Homo sapiens: one gene and its partners. The protein of the gene in region 1 purifies or fractionates together with the protein of each later gene. This does not show direct contact. Each region holds a gene or a part of one and is shown in the gene's direction. Other genes may lie near its edges. The genes, in order: TNFAIP6, VCAN, FOXRED2, ITIH2, FAM91A1, ACADL and ITIH3.

Region 1 (3,228 bases):
ATTCTCTCACAATAGAAGAGCAAAAAAGTATCATTAATAATCTAAGTTGAATTTTTGGTAGTGTTTTTGAACACATTTTTAAATGTCTATTAGCCCTTTGAACACCTATGAATTGCCTATGAATTTATATTTCTTGCATATTCTTTGGCGCTTTTGTCTTTCTCTTTTTTATTTCTTTGTATATTAGAGATATTAACCCTATTTTCTCTCAGTCTGTCTCGTGCAAAATTTTTTTTTTATATTTAGGCAAATCTTCCAAATATGAGAAAATAGCAGTCTGAGAATCAGAGCATGAACTCGGAAACCAGACTGCCTGTGCTCAAACCTGACTCTGCCCATTTAGTTCTGTGGCTTTGGGCAAGCTACTTAGTAGTCACTCTGTGCCTCAGTTTCTTATCTGTAAAATGAATATTTAAAAAGTATCCCCCTCACCTCGCAGTGTTGTTGTGGGGGTTAAATGAGTTAATAGATAAAAGCAAGCATTAGGAATGTATATACTCTGCTTTTGTTTATATATATTTGCAGCTCATGCCTGTGACCCCAACATTTTGGGAAGCTGGGGTAGAAGGATCACTTGAGCACAGGAGCTTGAGACCAGCCTGGGCAACATAGTGAGATCCTGTCTCCAAAAACAAACAAAAAGAAGGCCTTTGCCTCCTTTTTGAAAAAGATATAAATATTCCTATATTTTATGTTATATAATAAAGTTTTTCCTTTTTATTTAGCACATTTTGGTCTTTATATTACGGTAAAATGTGTTTAGGTACTCTGTGTAAAGTAGGAATCTAGCTTCATTTCTAATAAATGTGAAACTTGTTGCTCTGACATCATTTAGTAAATAACTCATCCACCCATCGCTGGTTTGACCTGCCCTGCCATTCTCCTGTAATTCTGTGGATGTTCCTTCTACAAAGAGTATCTTCTTTTTTTTTTTTTTGAGACGGAGTTTTGCTCTTGTTGCCCAGGCTGGAGTGCAATGGCAGAATCTTGGCTCACTGCAACCTCCGCCTCCCGGGTTCAAGGATTCTCCTGCCTCAGCCTCCCGAGGAGCTGGGATTACAGGCACACGCCACCAAGCCCGGCTGATTTTTTGTATTTTTAATAGAGACGGGGATTCACCATGTTGGTCAGGCTGGTATGGAACTCTCGACCTCAGGTGATCTGCCCACCTCGACCTCCCAAAGTGCTGGGATTACAGGCGTGACCCACCAGGCCCAGCCCAAGAGTACCTTTTAAATACAAGAGAGAGGCCAACTCGGTGGCTCACGCCTGTAATCCCAACACTTGGGAAGGCCGAGGTGCGTGGACCACCTGAGGTCGGGAGTTTGAGACCAGCCTGGCCAACATGGTGAAACCCCGTCTCTAGTAAAAATACAAAAAAATCTGCCAGGTGTGGTGGTGCGTGCCTTTAATCCCAGCTACTCGGGAGGCTGAGGCAGGAGAATCGCTTGAGCCCGGGAGGCGGAGGTTGCGGTGAGCCGAGATCGCGCCACAGCACTCCAGCCTGGGCAACAGAGTGAGTGAGACTCCATCTCAAAAATAAATAAATAAATACAATAGACAAAATTTCCTGTAGGATAGATTGGAGGACCAAAGGAAAAAATACAAACGTCTCTCACCCTGTTCCATGCGGCAATGAAACCACAGACTCTTCAGCTTGAGAATCGACCTCTGAATTCTGGGAATCTTGTTCATGAATTCTTATATTCTCCTATGAGAATGAAGAGTCTTTGAATTGTCAGCCAAATCAAAGGAGAGTAACATCTTTGTTCTTTTGCCTCCTTCCCCGCAACAGGAAATGTCATGACCTTGAAGTTTCTAAGTGATGCTTCAGTGACAGCTGGAGGTTTCCAAATCAAATATGTTGCAATGGATCCTGTATCCAAATCCAGTCAAGGAAAAAATACAAGTACTACTTCTACTGGAAATAAAAACTTTTTAGCTGGAAGATTTAGCCACTTATAAAAAAAAAAAAAAGGATGATCAAAACACACAGTGTTTATGTTGGAATCTTTTGGAACTCCTTTGATCTCACTGTTATTATTAACATTTATTTATTATTTTTCTAAATGTGAAAGCAATACATAATTTAGGGAAAATTGGAAAATATAGGAAACTTTAAACGAGAAAATGAAACCTCTCATAATCCCACTGCATAGAAATAACAAGCGTTAACATTTTCATATTTTTTTCTTTCAGTCATTTTTCTATTTGTGGTATATGTATATATGTACCTATATGTATTTGCATTTGAAATTTTGGAATCCTGCTCTATGTACAGTTTTGTATTATACTTTTTAAATCTTGAACTTTATAAACATTTTCTGAAATCATTGATTATTCTACAAAAACATGATTTTAAACAGCTGTAAAATATTCTATGATATGAATGTTTTATGCATTATTTAAGCCTGTCTCTATTGTTGGAATTTCAGGTCATTTTCATAAATATTGTTGCAATAAATATCCTTGAACACACATATTTGTGCACCTCTCTAATTATTTAAGACAAGGACCTGGAAATAGAATTACTGAATCAAAGGTTAATTAAAATAAAATTTTCTGTTTTGATAGGCAAAAATGAGGCCTCACTGTAGTTTGAATTTGCATTTCTTTATTCATGAGATTGATGGTTATATAATTTTTTGTTAATTTTTTTTGTGAATTATTTTTCCATGCCTTTTTTTCACTATTTTTAAAAACTGATATAATCTTCTCTATTGATTTGTTAGAAATTATTATATATGTCCATGTTTGTCATATATGCTGTAATTTAATTTTTAGTTTATATTTTGTCTTTTACTTTAATGGTTCTTTAAAATATATCAAATGTTAAAATTTATTTGCAATTATACTTGATTTTGCTGAGGTCTCTTTTCTCATATTTATGTTTAGGACTGTCAAAAGACAAAATGACAACAAATTTAGTTTAAAGATCTTAATTGGCTTTTATTTGCAATTCTAGAATCAGGCACCTCATTTTTAAAATAGAATGAGTGTTCTGATGAGCTGAGCAGAGGACGTTGGTTTTATTGATATAAAAGGGCTGAGGAGAGCAGAAACAGAAAACAAAAAGCAGACTGGTTGTTTCAAAGTTACTTTTCTTATAAAGGTTAAAGCAGAGGCAACTTCCTTATCATGCCAGCTAAAACTGGTCTGTTTGAGGGTTTGGCTATTATCTCTCTGTGGCTCTTGGTTTCTTGGAAGGTCAGATAAACAACTAATTTC
Region 2 (3,750 bases), on another chromosome or scaffold:
CCAAAAAAGGGGCAGAATCAGTCACAGAGAGAGATACTGAAGTTGGTCATCAGGCACATGAACATACTGAACCTGTATCTCTGTTTCCTGAAGAGTCTTCAGGAGAGATTGCCATTGACCAAGAATCTCAGAAAATAGCCTTTGCAAGGGCTACAGAAGTAACATTTGGTGAAGAGGTAGAAAAAAGTACTTCTGTCACATACACTCCCACTATAGTTCCAAGTTCTGCATCAGCATATGTTTCAGAGGAAGAAGCAGTTACCCTAATAGGAAATCCTTGGCCAGATGACCTGTTGTCTACCAAAGAAAGCTGGGTAGAAGCAACTCCTAGACAAGTTGTAGAGCTCTCAGGGAGTTCTTCGATTCCAATTACAGAAGGCTCTGGAGAAGCAGAAGAAGATGAAGATACAATGTTCACCATGGTAACTGATTTATCACAGAGAAATACTACTGATACACTCATTACTTTAGACACTAGCAGGATAATCACAGAAAGCTTTTTTGAGGTTCCTGCAACCACCATTTATCCAGTTTCTGAACAACCTTCTGCAAAAGTGGTGCCTACCAAGTTTGTAAGTGAAACAGACACTTCTGAGTGGATTTCCAGTACCACTGTTGAGGAAAAGAAAAGGAAGGAGGAGGAGGGAACTACAGGTACGGCTTCTACATTTGAGGTATATTCATCTACACAGAGATCGGATCAATTAATTTTACCCTTTGAATTAGAAAGTCCAAATGTAGCTACATCTAGTGATTCAGGTACCAGGAAAAGTTTTATGTCCTTGACAACACCAACACAGTCTGAAAGGGAAATGACAGATTCTACTCCTGTCTTTACAGAAACAAATACATTAGAAAATTTGGGGGCACAGACCACTGAGCACAGCAGTATCCATCAACCTGGGGTTCAGGAAGGGCTGACCACTCTCCCACGTAGTCCTGCCTCTGTCTTTATGGAGCAGGGCTCTGGAGAAGCTGCTGCCGACCCAGAAACCACCACTGTTTCTTCATTTTCATTAAACGTAGAGTATGCAATTCAAGCCGAAAAGGAAGTAGCTGGCACTTTGTCTCCGCATGTGGAAACTACATTCTCCACTGAGCCAACAGGACTGGTTTTGAGTACAGTAATGGACAGAGTAGTTGCTGAAAATATAACCCAAACATCCAGGGAAATAGTGATTTCAGAGCGATTAGGAGAACCAAATTATGGGGCAGAAATAAGGGGCTTTTCCACAGGTTTTCCTTTGGAGGAAGATTTCAGTGGTGACTTTAGAGAATACTCAACAGTGTCTCATCCCATAGCAAAAGAAGAAACGGTAATGATGGAAGGCTCTGGAGATGCAGCATTTAGGGACACCCAGACTTCACCATCTACAGTACCTACTTCAGTTCACATCAGTCACATATCTGACTCAGAAGGACCCAGTAGCACCATGGTCAGCACTTCAGCCTTCCCCTGGGAAGAGTTTACATCCTCAGCTGAGGGCTCAGGTGAGCAACTGGTCACAGTCAGCAGCTCTGTTGTTCCAGTGCTTCCCAGTGCTGTGCAAAAGTTTTCTGGTACAGCTTCCTCCATTATCGACGAAGGATTGGGAGAAGTGGGTACTGTCAATGAAATTGATAGAAGATCCACCATTTTACCAACAGCAGAAGTGGAAGGTACGAAAGCTCCAGTAGAGAAGGAGGAAGTAAAGGTCAGTGGCACAGTTTCAACAAACTTTCCCCAAACTATAGAGCCAGCCAAATTATGGTCTAGGCAAGAAGTCAACCCTGTAAGACAAGAAATTGAAAGTGAAACAACATCAGAGGAACAAATTCAAGAAGAAAAGTCATTTGAATCCCCTCAAAACTCTCCTGCAACAGAACAAACAATCTTTGATTCACAGACATTTACTGAAACTGAACTCAAAACCACAGATTATTCTGTACTAACAACAAAGAAAACTTACAGTGATGATAAAGAAATGAAGGAGGAAGACACTTCTTTAGTTAACATGTCTACTCCAGATCCAGATGCAAATGGCTTGGAATCTTACACAACTCTCCCTGAAGCTACTGAAAAGTCACATTTTTTCTTAGCTACTGCATTAGTAACTGAATCTATACCAGCTGAACATGTAGTCACAGATTCACCAATCAAAAAGGAAGAAAGTACAAAACATTTTCCGAAAGGCATGAGACCAACAATTCAAGAGTCAGATACTGAGCTCTTATTCTCTGGACTGGGATCAGGAGAAGAAGTTTTACCTACTCTACCAACAGAGTCAGTGAATTTTACTGAAGTGGAACAAATCAATAACACATTATATCCCCACACTTCTCAAGTGGAAAGTACCTCAAGTGACAAAATTGAAGACTTTAACAGAATGGAAAATGTGGCAAAAGAAGTTGGACCACTCGTATCTCAAACAGACATCTTTGAAGGTAGTGGGTCAGTAACCAGCACAACATTAATAGAAATTTTAAGTGACACTGGAGCAGAAGGACCCACGGTGGCACCTCTCCCTTTCTCCACGGACATCGGACATCCTCAAAATCAGACTGTCAGGTGGGCAGAAGAAATCCAGACTAGTAGACCACAAACCATAACTGAACAAGACTCTAACAAGAATTCTTCAACAGCAGAAATTAACGAAACAACAACCTCATCTACTGATTTTCTGGCTAGAGCTTATGGTTTTGAAATGGCCAAAGAATTTGTTACATCAGCACCAAAACCATCTGACTTGTATTATGAACCTTCTGGAGAAGGATCTGGAGAAGTGGATATTGTTGATTCATTTCACACTTCTGCAACTACTCAGGCAACCAGACAAGAAAGCAGCACCACATTTGTTTCTGATGGGTCCCTGGAAAAACATCCTGAGGTGCCAAGCGCTAAAGCTGTTACTGCTGATGGATTCCCAACAGTTTCAGTGATGCTGCCTCTTCATTCAGAGCAGAACAAAAGCTCCCCTGATCCAACTAGCACACTGTCAAATACAGTGTCATATGAGAGGTCCACAGACGGTAGTTTCCAAGACCGTTTCAGGGAATTCGAGGATTCCACCTTAAAACCTAACAGAAAAAAACCCACTGAAAATATTATCATAGACCTGGACAAAGAGGACAAGGATTTAATATTGACAATTACAGAGAGTACCATCCTTGAAATTCTACCTGAGCTGACATCGGATAAAAATACTATCATAGATATTGATCATACTAAACCTGTGTATGAAGACATTCTTGGAATGCAAACAGATATAGATACAGAGGTACCATCAGAACCACATGACAGTAATGATGAAAGTAATGATGACAGCACTCAAGTTCAAGAGATCTATGAGGCAGCTGTCAACCTTTCTTTAACTGAGGAAACATTTGAGGGCTCTGCTGATGTTCTGGCTAGCTACACTCAGGCAACACATGATGAATCAATGACTTATGAAGATAGAAGCCAACTAGATCACATGGGCTTTCACTTCACAACTGGGATCCCTGCTCCTAGCACAGAAACAGAATTAGACGTTTTACTTCCCACGGCAACATCCCTGCCAATTCCTCGTAAGTCTGCCACAGTTATTCCAGAGATTGAAGGAATAAAAGCTGAAGCAAAAGCCCTGGATGACATGTTTGAATCAAGCACTTTGTCTGATGGTCAAGCTATTGCAGACCAAAGTGAAATAATACCAACATTGGGCCAATTTGAAAGGACTCAGGAGGAGTATGAAGACAAAAAACATGCTGGTCCTTCTTTTCAGCCAGAAT
Region 3 (3,750 bases), on another chromosome or scaffold:
ATTGGATTATATCAGTTCTTTTTCAAAACTCTCAGTACCAAGGGTATAAATTTTCTGCCAACTTGAGAATGTTTACAAAGAAAATACTAAAATATCTTTTAAAAACATAATTCTATTTATTGCACTAAAATAATCCCCAACCAAAAATTGATACTTGTGATTTTAGGAGTAAATGGGAAATAAAAAGGAAGTGAGAGAGATGAATTCACGCATGTTGGGTGACTTCAGTGGGCTGAGCACTGAACACACGACCCTGGCAGGGCCGCCAGCACCCCGAAAGGTGGGTGTGAAATCTCCATTTTCCTCAAGAGTGTAAAACTCTGAGGCTCAGAGTTTTGGTGATTTTCTCACCATTATGGGAATTAAACTCCAAGGCCCAGGAGCTTTCCTGAAAGACACTTTCTACAAAGGTCTTCTCTTCTTTCATAGAAAGCAAACTGGTGCCCTTTCTGTGGAGAGGAGTCTAAAATGTTAGATGTGGCCAGGCACGGTGGGTCACACCTGTCATCCCAGCACTTTGGTAGACTGAGGTGGGTGGATCACCTGAGGGCAGGAGTTCGAGACCAGCCTGGCCAGTATGGTGAAATCCCACCTCTACTTAAAATACAAAATTAGCCGGGCATGGTGGCGGGCGCCTGTAATCCCAACTACTCGGGATGCTGAGGCAAGAGAATCACTTGAACCTTGGAGGTGGAGGTTGCAGTGAGCCAAGCCCACACCATTGCACTCCAGCCTGGGCAAAAAGAGTGAAACTCTGTCTCAAAAATAAATAAATAAATAAAAATTAGATGTTCCTGCTCCTGTGGTTAACCTTCTGAGAAGGACAGGGTGTTGGTTGAAATTCACTCAGTGAGGCATACAGTATTCAGTTAGGTGGTTAGGTGAGTCTATTTGAAAGAATGGAGTCATAATCTTACAGCTGAGCTTTAAAAAATTAGTATTATTATTTTTTTTGAGACAGCGTCTCTTCCTGTTTCCCATGCTGGAGTACAATGGCGCCATCTCGGCTCACTGCAGCCTCGACTTCCCAGACTCAAGCCATCCTCCCACCTCAGCCTTCTGAGTGGCTGGGACTTCAGGCGTGCACCACCACACCCAGCTAATTTTGTTGTTTTTATTTTTGTGTGGTAGAGACAAGTTTTCGCCATGTTGCCCAGGCTGGTCTCAAACTCCCAAGCTCAAGCGATCCACCCACCTCAGCCTCCCAAAGTGTTGGGATTACAGGCATGAGCCACCATGCCTAGCCTGAGCATCAAAAATGTGAAAATGTAGGGAATTACGGGGAGTAATCTTTATATTCTGCCACTCAAAGACATTCAATATTTATATTTCTTTTTTCTTTTTAAAGACAGTAAGGCAGGCTGGGCGTAGTGGCTCATGCCTATAATCCCAGCATTTTGGGAGGCTGAGGCTGGCAGATCAGCTTAGGTCAGAAGTTCGAGACCAGCCTGACCAACATGGTGAAACCCCATCTCTACTAAAAATACAAAAATTAGCCAGGCTTGTAATCCCTACTACTTGGGAGGCTGAGGCAGGAGAATCACTTCAATCCAGGAAGCAGAGGTTGCAGTGAGCCAAGATCGTGCCACTGCGCTCCAGCCTGGGCATCAGAGTGAGACTCTGTCTCAAAAATCATAATACAAATGAAGACGGTAAGGTGGACTTTATTCCAGGTTAGAGGACTACAATAATAAGTGTAGGGACCACTGCAGAGGGGTCTTACAGTACGGGCAAAGGATTGGACTCAATTCTGGGAGTCGGTTCCTCCTGGAACCCAGGAGGCGGAGGTCGCGGTGAGCCGAGATCGCACCACTGCACTCCAGCCTGGGCAACAGAGCGAGACCCTGTCTCAAAAAAATAAAATAAAAAATATTTAAAAAAAGAACTTAGAGACAGATGGATTTAGGCTGTGAAAGAGAGGGCGAAATCAAAGATTTCTGTAGGCGCGTCTCTGATGGAAACAGAGCTGTGAAGGGGGGGAGGTTTCTGGGGAAGGCTCCGTGTTGGACTTGACGTTCCTTGTGTGAGGTGGGGCCGGTGGGACTCCCACGTGCAGATGGCCTGAAGCAGGGGCAGATGGACTCTGGCCTGGAGACCAACTCCAGCTGTGCTCACTCCTTTGCCTGTTGTCTTGGCCGCTTTTACACTAGGGGCAGAATTGAGCAGCATCACTGAGTCGTGTATGACCCACAAAGCAGAGAATATGGATTGTCTGGCCCTTTCCAGAAAATACCTGCTGGCCCTGCTCTAAAGGCAGCTGCCATCTCCTCCCCTCATGTGTTCACCACCTAGGCGTTTGCGCTGGGCCATGGAGACCAGTGTGTATGGCGTTCTCAGGGGTCAATGAGGCCTGGGCATCCCTCCCAGTGACCAGAGATAAAATGGTAAGTGCAGCGTGCCGTTCCTCCCTCTGGCTGTTCCAGTGCGTGCTGTTCACCGGCTCCTGGAGCACCGCCACCACAGCGTCACCTGGCCCGCCACTGAGCTCCCCATCACACAGCTGACCAGCTCCATCGTGCGGCGCGTGAATGAGGCTTCTGGGCTCTACCAGATGTTCGGTGTGCTGGCCGATGTCATCCTGTTGAAGGAGTGAGTAGCCCGTCCCCACCCTACTCCCCTCGGCCCAGCTTTCCCGACGTGCTGCATAGCGCTTCTCTTCCTATTCCAGGTGTGAGGTGCCCAGTTCTTTCCTAAGATGAAGGCTGCTGTGGGGAACATGCCTGTTCTGGGGAAAAACAATGACATTAACTCTACAGACAGTCCTGTGAGTGGCCACGGGCACATTAGTGAGCCTCTCTGAGCCCTTCTTCCTCATCTGCAAAATGGGGATAATTGTGCCTACCTTGCAGCAGTAAAGGAAGGAGTAAAGGTCACTTGTGGAAAGTGTTTGGCATCACGTGGATGAGCAGTAGTCAGAGGCAGCCACGTGGATCTCAGAGCTCCCTCAGGCCAGGGCCTTGCCGGCCACCATCGTCAGAGTCAATTTAGTGATAAGCAGCAGATCCCAGAGGATGGACAGTTCCTGAGAAGGAAACGGTGCAGAGCACAGAGGGGTGAGGGGCGGGGGGAGACAGGTGGCAGGGAGAAGCAAGGGAGCAACCTTCAGTCAGAGGGAACAGCCCGATCCAAAGGCAGGGCGTGCTATAGCACACCAAGTTCAGGGACATGCAGGTAGTGCAGCCGCTTTCTGCACAAAACCCTCGCATCACCCTCCATGCCCCTGCCCCTCTTTTTTTTTTCTTGAGACAGTCTCGCTCTGTCATCCAGGCTGGAGTGCAGTGGTGCGATCTCTGCTCGCTGCAACATCTGCCTCCTGGGTTCAAGCACTTCTCCTGCCTCAGCCTCCTAAGTAGCTGGGATTACAGGCACCCACCACCATGCCTGGCTAATTTTTTTTTTTGACTCAGAGTCTCACTATGTCTTGCCCAGGCTGGAGTGCAGTGGTGCGATCTTGGCTCACTGCAGCCCACCTCCCAGGTTCAAGCGATTCTCGTGTCTCAGCCTCCCGAGTAGCTGGGATTACAGGCCCATGCCACCACACCTGGCTAATTTTGTATTTTTAGTAGAGACTAGGTTTCACCATGTTGGCTAGGCTGGTCTCAAACTCCTGACCTCAGGTGATCCACCCGCCTTGGTCTCCCAAAGTGCTGAGATTACAGGCGTGAGTCAGCACGCCTGGCACCCCTGTCTCAACACCCCACATGCAAACCATGGGCAAGTCTTGTCACCTCTGCCTTCAGATGATGTCTG
Region 4 (3,750 bases), on another chromosome or scaffold:
TTGAAGTGTTCATAGATGAAATGATGTGCCATCTGAGCTTGGCTTCTTTTTTTTTTGAGATGGAGTCTCGCTCTGTCGCCCAGGCTGGAGTGCAGTGGCGTGATCTCGGCTCACTGCAAGCTCCGCCTCCCGGGTTCACACCATTCTCCTGCCTCAGCCTCCTGAGTAGCTGGGACTACAGGCACCCGCCACCATGCCTGGCTAATTTTCGTATTTTTAGTAGAGACGGAGTTTCACCGTGTTAGCCAGGATGGTCTCGATCTCTTGACCTCGTGATCTGCCCGCCTCGGCCTCCCAAAGTGTTGGGATTACAGGCGTGAGCCACCGTGCCTGGCCTTGAACTTGGCTTCTTAACAACTAAGGTGGAAAGCATGAGAGTACAGACAAATTAAGATTGGCTGAGTATTCATAATGGTGTAGCTCAGTGATGGTTTCATGGACATCTCATATTATTCCCTCTATTTTCTGTGTGTTTGAAATTTTTCGTAATAAAAGAAGGTTAAACTACTCCAATACTTTCCAAACAGTTAATACCAGTTATCCACTTGGAGCCTTCATGTATCAAAGTTAAATATTCTCTGTTCCTCTAAGTGATTGGAATGATTTCTATGTCCAAATATCAAGGTGGCCAACCCAGAGTATGTTCCAGGTGGTCAATGTCCCTCTTAAGTTGCCAAGAACACAGCAAAGTACTGTGCATAAAGTCTGGCTATTTTTTTTTTATGAAGACATTAGGTTGAATTACTTCTCATCCACTTTTGTCTTTCATACACCAAGGTAATCAGTGATCATTGTGGATAAATAGTAAAGGGTTCAACCACCATGTACTTTGGCTGCCGAAAGTGGCAGTCATGTGAACTCTAACCAAATAGGCAGAAAAAGGCATTGTGTCACTTTAATTGGTATCCTTTGAATTGGCTTTAAAATGTATCACTTTTTTTGTCTGCCTTTTCTAAAAAGCAAAGGGAGAAGGAAAGGCTTTTCTGTACTGGTATTATATGACCCCATGTCTAGAAATGACATTGAAAACTATTTTAATAAATTCCTATTTTTAAACCACACAATCAGAATTTACTCAAAAGATCTCTTATTTCTGTTTTCCTTCTTTTTTTTTTTTCTTTTTTACTTTAAGTTCTGGGATACGTGTGCAGAATGTATAGGTTTGTTACATAGGTACACATGTGCCATGGTGGTTTGCTGCACCTATCATCCCATCATCTAGGTTTTAAGCCCCACATGCGTTAGCTGTTTGTCCTAATGCTCTCCCTCCCCTTGCCCCCTACCGCCCGACAGGACACGGTGTGTAATATTCCCCTCCCTGTGTCCATGTGTTCTCATTGTTCAACTCCCACTTATGAGTGAGAACATACAGTGTTTGATTTTCTGTTCCTGTGTTAGTTTGCTGAGGAAGATGGCTTACAGCTTCAACCATGTCCCTGCAAAGGACATGATCTTATTCCTTTTTATGGCTGCATACTATTCCGTCCTTCATTCTGTTCTTTCTTTACTATCTCATTACATAGAAGATTTGAAGTACAAAGGACAGAATCGTGAAACATGCATTTACTTTTATCTCCCTCTGCTCTGAGCTGAATCTATAAGACCAGAGAAGATACCTGCTTAATTATCACAACTTAAAATGAGCTGTGTAGACCTATGTACTAGCCAAAATATCCCTTTTACCTTTTTATCAAGATCTTGAATATTCTATGGGAGATGATTTCCTTTGTCCTAAAGACCCCTTGGCCTTTGAGACTTAGTTCTGATTCGATAGAAGCATGATGGCCTTGACCAGCAGTGTGACCTTGGCAAGAGTCACCTGTCTCCTGGGGTCTGATGTCTCTCATCTAAAGGGGCAAACCCACAAGTGTGCCTCAACACACGTGCTGTTGGCATTTGGGGCAGGAAAATTCTTCAGTGGAGCTGTCCCTCATATTGCAGGATGACTAACATTCGTGGTGTCCTCCCACAAATGCCAGCAGCACTTCCAAGTCATCTCAACAACCCAAACTTCACACATTTCCAAATTGCTCCTTGGGAAAGACACTGCCCATTTGAGTACTGGAAGTTCCCATGTACTTCCAAAATTCTGGATTCTACCACTCTGACCAACCATTACTTGGTAAGGATTAGGTGCTAGCCAGCTAAAGGTAAGGTGTATAGAGATGAGATGCAAATAGAAGACAGAGGTCCCCAAGGGAGATGGTTTCCAGATAAACACCACCTTGGCAGGGGACCCACCAGCACCTTCCCCCTTTTTCTTTATTCTTTTCCACCCTTGCAGAGGAGCATAATATTCTGTCTTCATCAGCTCCGGCTGCTATGACTAAGTACCATAAAATGGGTAGATTATAAACAACAGAAATTTAAAATTCATAGTTCTGAAGGCCGGGAAGTCCGAGATCAAGATGCCCAAGGATTTCGTGTCTGGTGAGGGCCCATTTCCTGGTTCAGTCAAGATGGAAAGAGATGAGAGAGCTCTTCGAAGTCTGTTTTTTATGACAGCACTAAATGCTATTCATGAGGAGAGAGCCCTCTCCAAGGCCCCACCTCGTAATGTCATCGTCCTAGGAAGTAAGGTTCAACATGCACATTTGCGGGGAACATAAACATTCGGTCCATTGCATACCCCACAGCGATGCCAAATTCTTAGCTCACAGAATGACCTGATGAACCAGTAATGAGATAATTCGGAATTTATCAGTCACCTCCCCTAATCACATTTGTCATTCAAAGGGGATACCCAAAGAGAACCATCCTTAATCTAAAGGATGAAATTCAAAGATGAGGAAAAATCTATAAACAAACAACAGTACATGAGGGAAAGGTTTTAGGATGGGAGCCTACCAAACCCCTCTCAAGCCACACTATCCAATCAATAAAGGAAGTCCTGTCCATAAACTATTTGAATGCCTCCCTTCTTATTTCTTATAGACACAAAATGATCATTGCCCTCATTCATTAAATTAGCCTTGTTGGGTTGTTTGCTCGCTCTTGTTTGTTTTGCTAAGATTACTATTCTGGGCCAGGCGCGGTGGCTCACACCTGTAATCCCAGCACTTTGGGAGGCCAAGCCAGGTGGATCATGAGGTCAGGAGATCGAGACCATCCTGGCCAACATGGCGAAACCCAATCTCTACTAAAAATACAAAAAATTAGCCTGGCCTGGTGGCAGACGCCTATAATCCCAGCTACTCAGGGGGCTGAAGCAGGAGAATTGCTTGAACCCAGGAGGTGGAGGTTGCACTGAACTGAGATTGCACCATTGCACTCCAGCCTGGGTGACAGAGCAAGACTCCATCTCGAGGGGAAAAAAAAAAAAGATTACTATTCTGACCAACTGGTTACCTTCTGTCATTTTCTAGGACTGTGGACGGCAAGACATTTAGGAGCTCTATTAAGGAGAAAACTGTGGGCCGAGCTCTTTATGCACAGGCCAGAGCAAAAGGCAAGACGGCTGGCTTGGTGAGGTAAGGCCTGAGTGAGCAAGGCTTGCCCTTGCCTCTCAATGACGGTTTCCTCTCCTACTTCCTTCCCACAGCAGCAAAGCAGCCTCTGGAAAGGCACAGCACCTGAGCCAATGGCAACCTCCTCAGAGCCAGATGTTAGAATTAGGCACTGCAGTTTCTATTCGCCTAAAGGTCCCTCTTCAACCAATGGGTTTTGGGTGATCCCACGCTGGTTGTGCTTACATCACTGTCTTGCAGGTAGATGGATGTTCTGTAAATAAACACTGCTTTTTCTAAAGAG
Region 5 (4,308 bases), on another chromosome or scaffold:
GCAAGTCATGAAGCCCTGCCAAGCCTCAGTCTCCTCCTCTATCAAACTGGGATAGTAAGTGGTTACTGTTGTAGGAATATCAGGGTTGTGAGGAATAATCTATTGTCAAGTCAAGGCCTTAATACATGGCGGGCAGGTAATCAATATTTGTTGAATAAATGTCTCACGGTTAGAGTTCAGTTAACCTTAGCTATGCTGATGAGGATCTGTAAACATAAGGTTCAAAGCACTTATCTTTGGGTTATTATAGTTGGATAATAGGAGACCAAAACATCTAAGCAAGGGCAGTGTGTACTTGTCACCTTTATTTCATCAGACATAATGGGGTTTCTGCTAAGCATCAGACTTGCCAGCTGTTGAGGTGTGAGCTAGGTATCTTATAAAAAGTTCTAAGTATACATCTCCCAGTATATAATAAAACATTATTTAAAACCATTGTTAAAAACTGAAAAACAGTTGCAATAACACTGAACTTGTCTCTGGTTGCTGCCAGGAATAATGGTCACGGGTTTGCTAAGGCAGCGTAACAACTTCTGAAAGAAATTATTCCCAAAGACCTTATCACTCAATCTGAAATTAAGACATGCTGGATTTTTGCTTTTAAGTGACTCTGGAGGCATTTGTGTGGAGCAGAATAAAGCAGAAACCGACAGGCTGCATGACAAAGTTGGCAAGGGTATCTCTCTGTCAGCCCTGTAGGCTGCCTCGACCTGTCAGCACCACTGTTTAAAATTTCAGCTCCCTGAATCCCTGCATTGTAAGAATTTGGATCTTCTTGGGAAGTGGAGCCCAATGACGTGCAGCACACCGCGGAAGGGAAGAGGGCTTACCAGACCTTTGCTCTCCCACTGCCCATGCTTCTCGCTCAACCCGGTGCGAGACCTGACTTAGAGATTATTTCTTTCTCCAGGGCCCTGGACCCGTCCCCGCAACCCCCCGCCCCGTCTCACTGGCCCGGGTTCCGGGCTGGCCTGTGGAGAACCCCCGCGAGCGCACCGCACTCCAATGTAAAGCCAGCCACTGCCGGCCCGCTTCCCAGGTCGCTTTTCTCTGAAAACCGACCCCAGTGCCTCCGGCTTTACAATTTGAGTAAACTGGGTCATCAGCAACGGCAACGCAGACCCAAGCGACTATCGCCGTTCATTCAGAGACTGAAACGGGGAGACGAAGCGCGCGGGCGGGGAACGCTCACCCGGGCACCTCCCGGTACCTCGTCGTCGCCCCGCCCCGCAGCCTGTAGAGGGCGTGGCTAGAGGCCAGTCCGTGCCCCGCCCCTCCGGCCGCGCGCCAGCGGGCGGAAGTGACGTGTGCCCAGAGCCATTTCCGGCGGCCCGAAACTAGGAAGAAACTTGGAGCTGTTCAGGCGATCCAGCCTCCAATCGCTGCTGCTCTTGTACTCGGTTGGCCCGGGCGGCGCTGAACTGTCGGGAGCCTAGGCCATGGGGCAGCCTGGGCCTTCTGCAGTGTGAGGCGCGGGGCCTCCCGCGTCGCTCCGCTGACAGGCTGCGGGCGGGCAGGCGGGAGGCGTAGTGTGGGTCGCGGTGGCGGCCCCGGCCGCCGGCCCTGGCCGCGGCATCATGAACATAGACGTGGAGTTCCACATCCGGCACAACTACCCCTGGAACAAGTTGCCGGCCAACGTGAGACAGGTACGGCCGGAACCTGGGACCGGGCCCCTGACGGATTCGGCCCGCCCAGCGGTCACCTGCTTGCCTCGCTCGCGGGGCCCGAGCGGGCTGCTGCCGGCTGACTCCCTTCCTTTACTCCTCCGTGGTCTTGGGGAGACGGACCTTCAGCCCAGGGCGAGGAGGGGACGGCTGTGGGGCCACAGGGCCAGGACGGGGCGATCGCTAAATGGGATGGCATGGTGTCCACAGGACTCGACTGGCGCCTTTGCCCGCAGGATACATTCAGCCAGGCACCTGCGATAGAGATTTTAAACACGGTCCTTGACCTCCGGAATTTCAGGATGGTGGGAAAGGGATGGGAAACAAATGAATACGATACAGGATGATAGCAGCTCATACACACCTGCATTGTAGTATATGTGAGAGCAGAGGGAGGGAGAAATTATCCTGGGAGAGTTGGAAGGATTTTTAAGGCAGGCACTTAAATTGGGCCTTGGAGGACGAATAAGAGTTAAATAAGAGGGAATAAAGATTTTTCCAGGGGGAGGGAAAGTCATTTTACAAAGCTTGGATGAGTGAAAGAACATGTCTCATGAGTAGCAAGTGACTGTATCACCAGAGTTTGGACTGACATGTTTGGAGTTGAAGTTTTTTGAGTGCGCGGGGCTGGTAGCAGATGAGCCTGGAAAAGTGGTCAGGGCCAGATTTTGAAGGTGCTTGTGTGCTTTGTTTTGTTGGACTTTATCCTCCAGACAAGATGGGTTTATCAGAGATGTTTCAACAAGAGTGACATGAGGTTTTTGAAAGTTAATTCTCGATTTTTTTAGTCTGTTTTACTCAATTGTTTAATAGATATTTATTGACCACCTACTAGGTGCTGTGCGTTGCTCTAGGTGCAGGTAATTTGCAACAGTCAACAAGACAAAGACTGCCTTCATGGAGCTTACATTTTACTAAAGAAAGACGTAAACAAATAAATGAATAAATACGTAACATAGCAGATGGTTTTAAGTCTTACGAAAGTAGTGATATGGGCTACAGATAACGCACTGCTGCTCTGGTCATAGATTGACCTTCGCTTCCTCCCATTATACTTGGTCGAGAGTGAAATTCAGTTTTCTGTTGGCACTCGGCAGTGGCATTTTTGGGAAGTTTGGAATGGTGGCGGTGATGGTATATAAGGATTATTTATTTATTTTTATTTTTATTTTCATTTCTTTGAGACAGAGTCTCCTGTTGCCCAGGCTGGAGTGCAGTGGTGTGATCTCCGCTCACTGCAAACTCTGCTTCTTGGGTTCAAGCGATTCTCCTGCCTCAGCCTCCCGAGTAGCTGGTACTACAGGTGCGCGCCACCACGCCCAGCTAATTTTTGTATTTTTAGTAGAGACGGGGTTTCATCATGTTGGCCAGGCTGGTCTCGATATCTTGACCTCATGATCCGCCCGTCTCGGCCTTCCAAAGTGCTGGGATTACAGGCGTGAGCCACAGTGCCCAGCCAGTATGAGGATTGTTATAGTTTAGTTTACTTTGCTCCCTTCCTCCCTTGGGGATTTAGTGCCAGGAAGTGAATATTAAGGTTCTGGTCATGCATCATGTGGCCAAGAAAATGCTTTCACTTTAATATAGCAAAAACCGAGAAAGATAAATTTAAAGAACTTGAATTCTTGGGTGTCAGTGGCTGCCCGTGTGGCATTTATCTTAAACTGGGAGAACAAAGCTCTAAACCTGAAGGAATAAATTTCTTTTGTTAATCTTGAATAAAGGCTTTAAAGGACACTTTTGTACTTTAGGGTTTTGTGGCAAATCCAAAGACACAAGAAGAACAAACAGTTCTTCTTTTCTTTGTTTCCATTTTTTCTCTACTCTTTTCATCAGAATAAATGTAGCATACTGGAAGAAAGATGAGTGATGAGATTATATCCAACATGAATATTTGACTTTAATTAGTATTGGCAAAAGAGTTTCTAAAACGTAGTCATGACTATTTAAAAATAATCATGGGACAGTTAAAATTAGGTCTAAATGTGAAATTAAGTATGTTTTTGTTTTTAAAATCACTTGAAAAACAGTGGCTATTTTAGCTTAGGATAAGGTTGGCCATTTGTAGATGTTGCAAAACATCTGTACAAGTTTACTTCCAAGGACCTTCTCTAGCCTAATCACTGCTTCCCTAGGCCGAGCTCCATCTGAGATTACTACATCAGCCTTCTCTCTGGTCTCTTGCTCTTAGAATAGGACTTTCTCTGCATTCTTCATGCTACTCTGGGGGTGAGGCTTCTGAAATGCAAACCCAACCTTATTACTGCTGGTCTCCTTTATATTGCTTGTATTAATAGCATATTTTGATTCTCACTCTGATACTGCTCCTGGGAGGTTTCCCTGACCACCTAAATCTGTGGTGGTTGCCCCTAGGCTATCTTACCATTGCATTGTATTCCTCACCTGTCATAGAGCTTACCCCGCTATGGTGCATTTTGTGGTTACAATACTGGCTTTGCTTTTGTCCCATGAGCACCTCTCACATACTTGGCTTTTAGTATTTGTGGCTGAGCACCTAAAGCTCAGTCAGTTTAAACTTGGGGAATATTCCTTCTATGGAAAGAATTTGTCTTTTGGCATTATAGATTTTTAGACACTTCGATGTCGTTTCCAGTAAGTTTTGATGGGTTTACCTTGAAAA
Region 6 (4,417 bases), about 59 Mb from region 1:
TTCTAATCACTCACTTTTTATACATTTATAAACAGGCAGATACAGATACAGATACAGACACAGGCAGTTATTTGGGTTAAAGAAGCTGGCATTTTCATGGGGTTTAGAAAGGACCGTGTAGTCCATGACATTTACTACCAGGTATCAGAGGAAAAGCATAAGCAGTTCCTTTTCTTGAACATTTGCCTTCTAATTGAATAGGCATTGGAATACACAAAGTAGAGGGTTTTTTTAAAGGATTTGTTCTTTCTTTTATCTACTACAAAATATGAGTATTTCTCAATGATGACAATAATAATTACCATTTATCGAATGTTTATTGTATTCCTGTCTTTGTGCCAACCACCTGACCTCCGTTATCTGAAAAATCTTTCCAACAACCCTATGACATAGATATTGTTATTCTTCATTTACAGGTGAGTAAATGGAGGTTTACATTTGTATGGAACATGTTCTGCTACTTGAGATAATGGGAATAGGAGCCTAGGAGGGCTAAAAGCAAGGAGCCAGCAAGTCTAGACACATTCCAGAGGACATTATGTCAGTCATGCAAGCCCTGCCTCAGCTTTCTTCCCAACCCTCAGCCTTTTTTCCCAACAGTATATAAATAATGTGGTGTTCCTTTCAATACAGGTGTCTCTAATGCTAGTTTGTTCCATTCTTGGTGAAGTTAATTTGAATCACATTTGGTTAGCATGTTTATCAGTTTTTTTCTACTGAGTTTCCTTTTGTGAAGTAAGAACAAATATGTTTATGAATGTAGAGTTAGCTGTGCTAAAATTAAATGAAAAGTCAAGCAAACTACCCAGATAGTTTAAGCCAATCACCCAGGATTTCATGAACCCTTTGAGCCATTTATGTTTCCCTTGAGGGATATTTCACATCTTTTACCTGAGAGTTCTACAGGGCATGCTTTTATTAGTTGAAATGTCACTGAGGGCGAGAGTAATTGTTCAACGGATGTACTTGAACTTGGACATTTAAGAATTAACAGAACGGGCTGGGCGCAGTGGCTCACGCCTGTAATCCCAGCACTTTGGGAGGCCGAGGCGGGAGGATCACGAGGTCAGGAGACCGAGACCTTTCTGGCTAACACGGTGAAATCCTGTCTCTACTAAATCCTGTGTCGGATTAATTCGTTCTACTTGCTATTACCAATAAATAGCATGGGCTCCCAGAGCTATGCCTGGCTAACTCTATCACCTTCAAGGGTTTGCTCAAACTATTCAGCCTACTTTAAGTAAATCAATTTCCAAGGTTACAAAATAAACTTCACGTACATTTTTATGGTTAGGTATTTGCGCGTATTTGGGGGCTCCATAGCTTTCATCCGTTACTCAAAGCGCTTCAGGACGCTAAAAAGGCTCAGAGCTGCTTCGATAAACAAGAAAGAATGCTGCAAGCAAAGGCAGCAGTTTCGCTGTAAAATCCTATTGCTGACAGCCAAGACGGGCGTATTCCCTCGCGACCAGCCTGTGGCGTGGTTGGGGCTCCGGAAGGGCGCGCGCGAGCGCTTTTTTGGGAGGACACCACAGGTGGACGCCTCAGCTGATCGTCCTCCCTCCCGGGGACCCTGCCCCGAGTCGCCGAGTAGCCGCAGAGTCGCCTCCGTCGCCCCGCCGCCCCTGTGTTTCGGACATGGCCGCACGCCTTCTCCGAGGGTCCCTACGCGTCCTGGGCGGCCACCGTGCGCCGCGCCAGCTGCCCGCCGCGCGGTGAGTGCCAGCCGGGACTTCCGCGGCTGCAGGCCGGGAGGCTGTGGGGTGGGGCAGCGAGTCACTCCTGTCGCTGGCTTGAAGCAGGGCGGTGCGCGCGCGGCTGGGAGTGCTCCCCAACTCCGGCGCCGGGCTAGAGCTGGCCTCCTTTCCTGGATCCCGCGGACTGGGTGCAACCAGCATCTGGGCGGAGGAAAAAGGGGTGTCAGCCGTGCCGCCCCGAGAACAGACCGCCGAGCCCACGTCGGGGAAAGCCGAAAGATTTCTCCAGAAGTTCATTCCGGAGCCCCAATCCAACCCGTCTAGTTCAGCGGCCTGCAGTGGGACCCGGGAGCCTGCGTTTTGGGAGGAGGTGGTCACCCCCTGGGCCCGGCTGCAGGAGCGCGGGCTGCGATCTGTGTCCCAGTTCGAGCTGTGAACCCGGCGTTCCCCACGGCTTAGACTCGCCGCGCGGTAGTGAACTTGGGACCCGGACTCAGTGCCCGGGCTGCGGCGCGGACCAGAATTGTCCAGGACAAACTGGGCTAGAAATGACCTGGCGAGGGTTCCATCAAACAAGGAAATTAGCTTTAGATATATCAACAAATCTAACTAAATACAGAGGATTAATGAAGACAGAGTCTAAGTAGTTCAGTGACTACTAAGGTGGTGTTTATAATATGATCAAAAGTTTCAGATACTGTCTGATGCATAAAATCTATTCACTGGGTAAACAAATTGGAAGCATGGAGAATTCATTATTTAATAAGGGTGAAGGAACTGGCAAATTTGCGAATGACAGCATTGGTGTAAGCTACTCTAATTTTATTTGAGAGCTATGAAACAAAATGCCTACTTTTCCTGGGGAGATTTGGGAAGACGTCACTGAGAAGGTGACTTTTCTTTAGGATACATACTTAACTCTTCCTTGGAACATTATAAGACAGTGATCCTCAAACTTTTTTTTTTTTTTTTTTTTTTTTGAGACAGAGTCTCACTCTGTCGCCCAGGCTGGAGTGCAGTGGCGCGATCTTGGCTCACTGCTGCAACCTCCGCCTCCCGTGTTCAAGCAATTCTCCTGCCTCAGCTTTCCTGAGTAGCTGGGACTACAGGCACGCACCACCACACCCGGCTGATCTTTTTAGTAGAGACGGGGGTTTCACCATATTGACCAGGCTGGGCTCAAACTCCTGACCTCGTGATCTGCCCGCCTCGGTCTCCCAAAGTGCTGCCTCAAAACTTTTTGATAACAGGGCTCCCTTATGCTCTTAAACAGGACCTCAAAGGACTTTTGTTTATGTAGGTTATATCTATCCGTCTGTCGTTATCGAAAGGTATCTACATAACTGAGAAACTTTACAGATATTTAGTTTATTTAAAAGTTACAATAAGAAGCTCATTACATGTTAACATAAATAACAGTTTTTATGAAAAATAACTTTTCCTAAACAGAAAAAAAGTGAAAAGAGTGACATTGTTTTACATTTTTACAACTCCCTTAATGTCTGGCATAATAGAAGATAACCAGATAACTATATCTGCTTCTGTTTTATCCATTGGCGTAAGTTAGTTTGATTGAAGCATGGCAAGAAAATCTACCCTCAAATAGAGAACACTGGAAAAAGGGAGACCTGAGAGACCCTCTGAATGGGCTGGGGGGCTACAGTTTTGTTGTAACAGCTTTTTTACCTTTAATGTGCAAAGGAATCACCTGGGAATCTTGTTAAAATACAGCTTCTGATTCAGTGGGTCTGGGATGGGGCCTGAGATTGTGTATTTATAACCAGCTTCTAGGTGTGTGGAAGGTGCTGGTGGAGATTGTCTCCCTTTTAAAATGTAGGAGACTTTAAAAAAACAATAATAGCCTAGCCAATAAGATTAGTTGCAGTTTATTGCCTTAGAGAAAAAAATGCCAATTTTTCCATTACAGATTTCTTCATCTTTAGACTGAGAAATACATGTTGCAATAAACTTGCTGCCAAGTGTTTTGATTTTCTTCCCTCTGCATATTCTCTCTTGACCACCTTTGACTGACCTGAAAGTCTTTATTCGTTTGGCATTTCTTTTGCTTTCCTATGTCTTTATATATTTTACTTAAAAATATTGCAGAGATTTCCTTAACACAGTACAGGCTATTCAATTTTAAGATCCAGTAAGACTCGATTTTAAATTCTGGCTCTATTGTTTACTCATTATGTTGACAAATGATTCGGTGTCTTACAGCCCCAGTTTCCTAATCTCAGCATATTTTTTTCCTGAGGGAAACTCTCAAGTATGGAAAATCTATATGGACAAATACGTGCTTTATAATTTTATCTCTACTAGCAAGAAAAAGGAGCCGATCATTTCCATTATAGGGATAAAGTAGATGTTAGTTTATTTGATGCAACAGGACAATGGTCAAGGTCCCCTGCATGTCCTGGTCCCCTGTTATCTCTTCTTCCTAGAATCTCTGGCCTCATCTACTCTTCTCAGCCCACTCTGGCTACAATTGCCTCCTTGCTCTTTCTAGAACACATCAGACACCATTCAGACATACAGCCTTTGCTCTAGTTGTTCTTTTGTCCTAAAATTCTTTTATTCTAGAGGTATGCCTGGCTAACTCTATCACCTTCAAGGGTTTGCTCAAATCTCACCTTTCTGGTTTAACCTACCCTGACTGCAGCACTTTTTTTTCTTTTCCTTTTTTTTTTTTTTTTGTTTGTTTGTTTGTTTTTAGTGAC
Region 7 (4,248 bases), on another chromosome or scaffold:
ACGAACACAGCGCTCACTGCAGCCTCGAACTCCTGGGCCCAGGTGATCCTCCAGCTTCAGTCTCCCAAAAAGCTGGGATTACAGGCAAGAGCCATAGTGCCTGGCTGATTTGGCAACTCTCCATCATTGCTCTGTGGCTGCTGCCTCTTCCAGCCATTAGACCACACCCTCCTCAGGGCTTCCGCTGCCCCGTGGCATCTGCCTTTTGCCTTCTTGGTTCCTCTGCTCCCAACAACTCTCTCTGCACATCTCCCAGTCAGCACCAGAGCTTTCAGCTGAGGCCGCTGAACTCCCCATAAGTTAGTTGTCCTGGACCCAGCCGTCCTTGTCGACTCCATTCAGTAGTGGGCTGCCCAGTGGGAGGGTCACAGGGTCAGCTTGGCTCAGAGAAGCCATGGGTATGGTGGGTGTGCAACAGCTGCCCTGATGGGGCTAGGCTGGCAGGGTCCTGAGGTGGCTCAGGAGGTCCCAGCCCCCACTGAGACCAGGTCCTGCCTCTAAAGCTCCTGTTGTCCTGGAAGCTGGAGCCCAGCCTCACTACGACTTTTAGGGCAATGACTCCCCAAAAGGCTGAGGGCAGCCAAGTCCCTGGCTGGGCCCTGGAAGCACAGAGGGAAACATGACATGGTCCAGCCCCCAGGAGCTCTGGGTGCAGAGGGGGCAGGCAGACCTGAGCACATCCACCTCAACATAAGGTCATGACAAAGCAGGCCCTCAGGGGGCTTGGGGCTTGGAGCAGGGATGTCCCATAGTCCTCTAGGGGATGGCCAGGGAAGGGTCCTGGAGGGGAGGCACTGGGACTGGCAGAGAGATGAAAGATGTGACATGTGCAGAAGGGGAGGGTGTGCTGGTGCAAGAGAGTGAGCTCAGAAAAACAAGCTGGGGTCAGATCACAGAGACAGCTGGGCTTCCGGGATCGTTGTGTGTCCTTTCCCTGGGGCTTTGGGGGCCATAGAAGGGTAGTGAGCGAGGGGCTCTGCTGTGGAGGTCCCAGCCTGAAGGTGACAGTCTAGTTTCACGCCCTGGCTGCCTCAAGAAGGGAGGGGCTGCAATCCAGGAGGCCAGAGAGAGGCTGTCCCAGTGGTAGGGATAAGAGGCAACAATGCTGAGATGCCCTTTGCCCTAAATGCAACTCCACACCCCATCTCCATCATCCACGCCAGGGAGTCCCAGGGTCCATTTGTTGGCCCACAGCTTCTGCTTTCCTGCGGGCCTCTTCCGAGTCCCCCGGTCTCTCAGGAATGAAGCCCCAACGCTGTTGGCAAGACCCACCAGGCCTTCTTCAGACAGACACATCGAGGGACCCGTCATTCCACCCATGCCCAGCTTCCCGGAGGCCCTTCCTGCCTCCACTCCTCCCACCCCCGCTGCAGGTCACTGACCCTGCTTGGAAAACACCAGGCTTGCTCATATAAGGAGCGTGGGCCAGGCCTGAGTATTCAGCGATGGCATTTGCATGGTGGCCCTGTCTCATCTTGGCTCTGCTCTCCAGCTTGGCAGCCTCTGGCTTCCCGAGAAGCCCCTTTCGGCTGCTTGGGGTGAGTCTGCCCCCTCTTTGCCATCTGGGTCTTGGTGTGGAATGGGCAGAAGGCATCATGCTGGGCAAGGCCTCTGAGTGGAGTGAAGAGGAGGCAGAGGGCTGGGCACTGAGCTGCTGGGAGTAGTGTGGACACTGGGAGAACCGGGCTCCAGCTGAGGCCTATGCTAACCTGTTGTCTAACCCTGGGAAGGCTCTTAAAACTCCCTGGGCCTCAGCTTCCCCACCTGTCAAAAGAGCAATGCACCAGGAACTGCTCACTTCACTGAGGGGCAATGAAGGTTCAAGTCTCAAACGAGTGTGACCTCTACAAAATGCTCAGTTGAGCCCTGCGGGGTGTGGCGGGGGCAGGGGTGCTCTGGAAGGAGGCCTAAAGGGGCCTGGGGGCCAGGGAAAGGCAGAATGGGAGATAGAATGAGGTGGGGCATGTAGGGTGTGAAGAGAGCTCTGGGTTCAGTTCCCCCTGCCCTGCTCTCCTGGTAACCTGGATACCTGCCCCTCTCTGGACCTCAGTTTCCCCATCTATTCAGAGTTTTTCCTACTCTGACATGTGGCTCTGGAGGGTCCTATGTCTGGGGGCCACTCAGGTGTGTGGGGGGCAGGGCACCACTGAACCCCTGGTCTCAGCCCAGAGCCTCCCAGGCCATGCGGCCTTGGTGTTGGCCTTGGCCTGATTCCTGTGTTTGTGTTTGTTTTTGTTTTTTCAGAAACGGAGCCTCCCGGAAGGGGTAAGAACTTTCACCAGGGGGTGGGACCGAGTGGGGCAGGGCAGGATGGAGCTGGTTCCCCAACTGCTGAAGGTGTAGGCTATAACAGCTGACTCCTCACAGCTGGCAAACAGCTTACGGCCCTCTGCCCTGGCAGCCTCCAACAGCGCAGGACTCCTGGGAAAGAGCACCACAGAGTGACGACCCCTCCAACCTCGCAGGATGTAGCCCAAGAGGGCCCCTCACAGGCATCCCTTCCTTCCGCAGACACTTCCTTAGCACTTGCTGGTACCTGGCTCTGTGAAGCGGTCCCTGCCACACCCTCACGAAGCATCTTTATATCCCTAGGGGGAGGGGGCTGGAACACCTCCCTAGAGCCTCTCAAAATTCAACACCCCTATTGGAAAGAGGGTGTTTGGAGACTTCCCTTGGCACAGGAAATCAGTTCCTCTTTGGGAGACAGAATGAGGCAATTACCTAAAGACCCAGGAGGTGGGCTGGGCTGTGTGCTTGAGGGAGTGTGAGGTGTGGAGGATGAGCAGGAAGAGCCAGGGGCAGATGCTCCAGAGCCAGTGTCCCACGCATAGCTGGAGCTCAGGGTGACTGGACGGGAAAGGGCAAGCTCTCACTGGCTGCAGTGGTGTGTAAACGGATCGCAGAATTAAGGAGGCAGGACAAGCATCTGAATAATGGTGGCCACCAGAACATGGAGACTGGAGACGCCACCAAGTCTTCCAGTGTAGAAGACCTGGAGGATGAGGGTTGCGTGCCGGGCAGGGGCCTCAGAGCCTCCAAGGGTTTGCAAGGGAGGTGGCTGGGTTGCAAACCTGCTTCTCCAGTGTCCCAGTCTGGCTGATTCTCCACCCACCTCCCCAAAGGTGGCCAATGGCATCGAGGTCTACAGTACCAAAATCAACTCCAAGGTGACCTCCCGTTTTGCTCACAATGTTGTCACCATGAGAGCCGTCAACCGTGCAGACACGGCCAAGGAGGTTTCCTTTGATGTGGAGCTGCCCAAGACGGCCTTCATCACCAACTTCACCTTGTGGGTACCACCATGGCTGCTGGCTCTGGGCTCGGGAACAGGGGGTCTGGCCCAGTGTGATCTCCCTACCCCCAACTCTCTTTCCCTGCAGGACCATCGACGGTGTTACCTACCCTGGGAATGTCAAGGAGAAGGAAGTTGCCAAGAAGCAGTATGAAAAGGCTGTGTCCCAGGGCAAGACGGCCGGCTTGGTCAAGTAAGTATGGACTCCCAGGCCTTGGGGAGAATGTCTGGGATCCAAGGGCCTTCAGGGCTACAAACAACAACAACAGCTATTATTATTGGTATAGCAAAATGTGCCCATAATTTTGCCATTATCCCACGTTGAGGCTGAGGCAAGTGAGGCTCAGAATGGTTAGGGATCTCCCTCGCCAAAGGGCTGGGCCTGGGGCCGAGGGCCGAGGAAGGGTGGGCTCCTGCAGTCTTTGAGGGAGTCACCATCTCGCACCCTGGTCAGGGCCTCTGGGAGGAAGTTGGAGAAGTTCACAGTCTCGGTCAACGTGGCTGCAGGCAGCAAAGTCACCTTCGAGCTAACCTACGAGGAGCTGCTGAAGAGGCACAAGGGCAAGTACGAGATGTACCTCAAGGTCCAGCCTAAGCAACTGGTCAAACACTTTGAGGTAATCAACCGCCCCTGCAGACCTGGGGGGACGGCAGCGGGGTGCAGGAACCCGCCCATGGGGCAGTCTCAGACAGGGGTCAAAAACAAAAGTTCTGCCTCACGGCATCCCCCATCCTTGGCTGGGAAGGCTGGAGGAATTCAATGGTTCTGGCCAAAAGCATCTGGGGCCAAGGGGAAGAGGCTGGGATGGACTCCACAGATGCAGATTCGGTGCTGGGCCCTCAAGAGCAACACCAGCAAGTGCCTCTGTAAGGCTTCTCACTGGGCACATGGGCATTTTTCCTACCTCAAAGCTGAAAGCCAAAGGAAAAGCATCAGTGGTGGAATTTCGGGCGCA

The links.
Region 2: the proteins of TNFAIP6 (region 1) and VCAN purify together in Homo sapiens (affinity purification with mass spectrometry; one large-scale study listed by BioGRID and IntAct). This does not show direct contact.
Region 3: the proteins of TNFAIP6 (region 1) and FOXRED2 purify together in Homo sapiens (affinity purification with mass spectrometry; one large-scale study listed by BioGRID and IntAct). This does not show direct contact.
Region 4: the proteins of TNFAIP6 (region 1) and ITIH2 purify together in Homo sapiens (affinity purification with mass spectrometry; one large-scale study listed by BioGRID and IntAct). This does not show direct contact.
Region 5: the proteins of TNFAIP6 (region 1) and FAM91A1 purify together in Homo sapiens (affinity purification with mass spectrometry; one large-scale study listed by BioGRID and IntAct). This does not show direct contact.
Region 6: the proteins of TNFAIP6 (region 1) and ACADL purify together in Homo sapiens (affinity purification with mass spectrometry; one large-scale study listed by BioGRID and IntAct). This does not show direct contact.
Region 7: the proteins of TNFAIP6 (region 1) and ITIH3 purify together in Homo sapiens (affinity purification with mass spectrometry; one large-scale study listed by BioGRID and IntAct). This does not show direct contact.

Annotation. Positions count from the first base shown.
Region 1 is NC_000002.12:151,377,569-151,380,796, forward strand, and holds the end of TNFAIP6 (tumor necrosis factor-inducible gene 6 protein precursor), read left to right. Parts: intron 1-1,619; exon of another isoform or gene 1,620-1,795; coding exon 1,796-1,965; 3' UTR 1,966-2,478; downstream 2,479-3,228. UniProt on the Homo sapiens protein: Major regulator of extracellular matrix organization during tissue remodeling. Catalyzes the transfer of a heavy chain (HC) from inter-alpha-inhibitor (I-alpha-I) complex to hyaluronan.
Region 2 is NC_000005.10:83,537,547-83,541,296, forward strand, and holds part of VCAN (versican core protein isoform 1 precursor), read left to right. Parts: coding exon 1-3,750. UniProt on the Homo sapiens protein: May play a role in intercellular signaling and in connecting cells with the extracellular matrix. May take part in the regulation of cell motility, growth and differentiation. Binds hyaluronic acid.
Region 3 is NC_000022.11:36,496,830-36,500,579, reverse strand, and holds part of FOXRED2 (FAD-dependent oxidoreductase domain-containing protein 2 isoform 1 precursor), read left to right. Parts: intron 1-2,423; coding exon 2,424-2,589; exon of another isoform or gene 2,590-2,725; intron 2,726-2,842; exon of another isoform or gene 2,843-3,022; intron 3,023-3,750.
Region 4 is NC_000010.11:7,709,816-7,713,565, forward strand, and holds part of ITIH2 (inter-alpha-trypsin inhibitor heavy chain H2 precursor), read left to right. Parts: intron 1-3,365; coding exon 3,366-3,470; intron 3,471-3,750. UniProt on the Homo sapiens protein: May act as a carrier of hyaluronan in serum or as a binding protein between hyaluronan and other matrix protein, including those on cell surfaces in tissues to regulate the localization, synthesis and degradation of hyaluronan which are essential to cells undergoing biological processes.
Region 5 is NC_000008.11:123,767,126-123,771,433, forward strand, and holds the start of FAM91A1 (protein FAM91A1), read left to right. Parts: upstream 1-1,313; 5' UTR 1,314-1,577; coding exon 1,578-1,649; intron 1,650-4,308. UniProt on the Homo sapiens protein: As component of the WDR11 complex acts together with TBC1D23 to facilitate the golgin-mediated capture of vesicles generated using AP-1.
Region 6 is NC_000002.12:210,222,485-210,226,901, reverse strand, and holds the start of ACADL (long-chain specific acyl-CoA dehydrogenase, mitochondrial precursor), read left to right. Parts: upstream 1-1,454; 5' UTR 1,455-1,638; coding exon 1,639-1,715; exon of another isoform or gene 1,716-2,489; coding exon of another isoform or gene 2,490-2,503; exon of another isoform or gene 2,504-2,587; intron 2,588-4,417. UniProt on the Homo sapiens protein: Long-chain specific acyl-CoA dehydrogenase is one of the acyl-CoA dehydrogenases that catalyze the first step of mitochondrial fatty acid beta-oxidation, an aerobic process breaking down fatty acids into acetyl-CoA and allowing the production of energy from fats.
Region 7 is NC_000003.12:52,793,359-52,797,606, forward strand, and holds the start of ITIH3 (inter-alpha-trypsin inhibitor heavy chain H3 isoform 4 preproprotein), read left to right. Parts: upstream 1-1,437; 5' UTR 1,438-1,445; coding exon 1,446-1,538; intron 1,539-2,244; coding exon 2,245-2,265; intron 2,266-3,122; coding exon 3,123-3,289; intron 3,290-3,380; coding exon 3,381-3,485; intron 3,486-3,746; coding exon 3,747-3,909; intron 3,910-4,248. UniProt on the Homo sapiens protein: May act as a carrier of hyaluronan in serum or as a binding protein between hyaluronan and other matrix protein, including those on cell surfaces in tissues to regulate the localization, synthesis and degradation of hyaluronan which are essential to cells undergoing biological processes.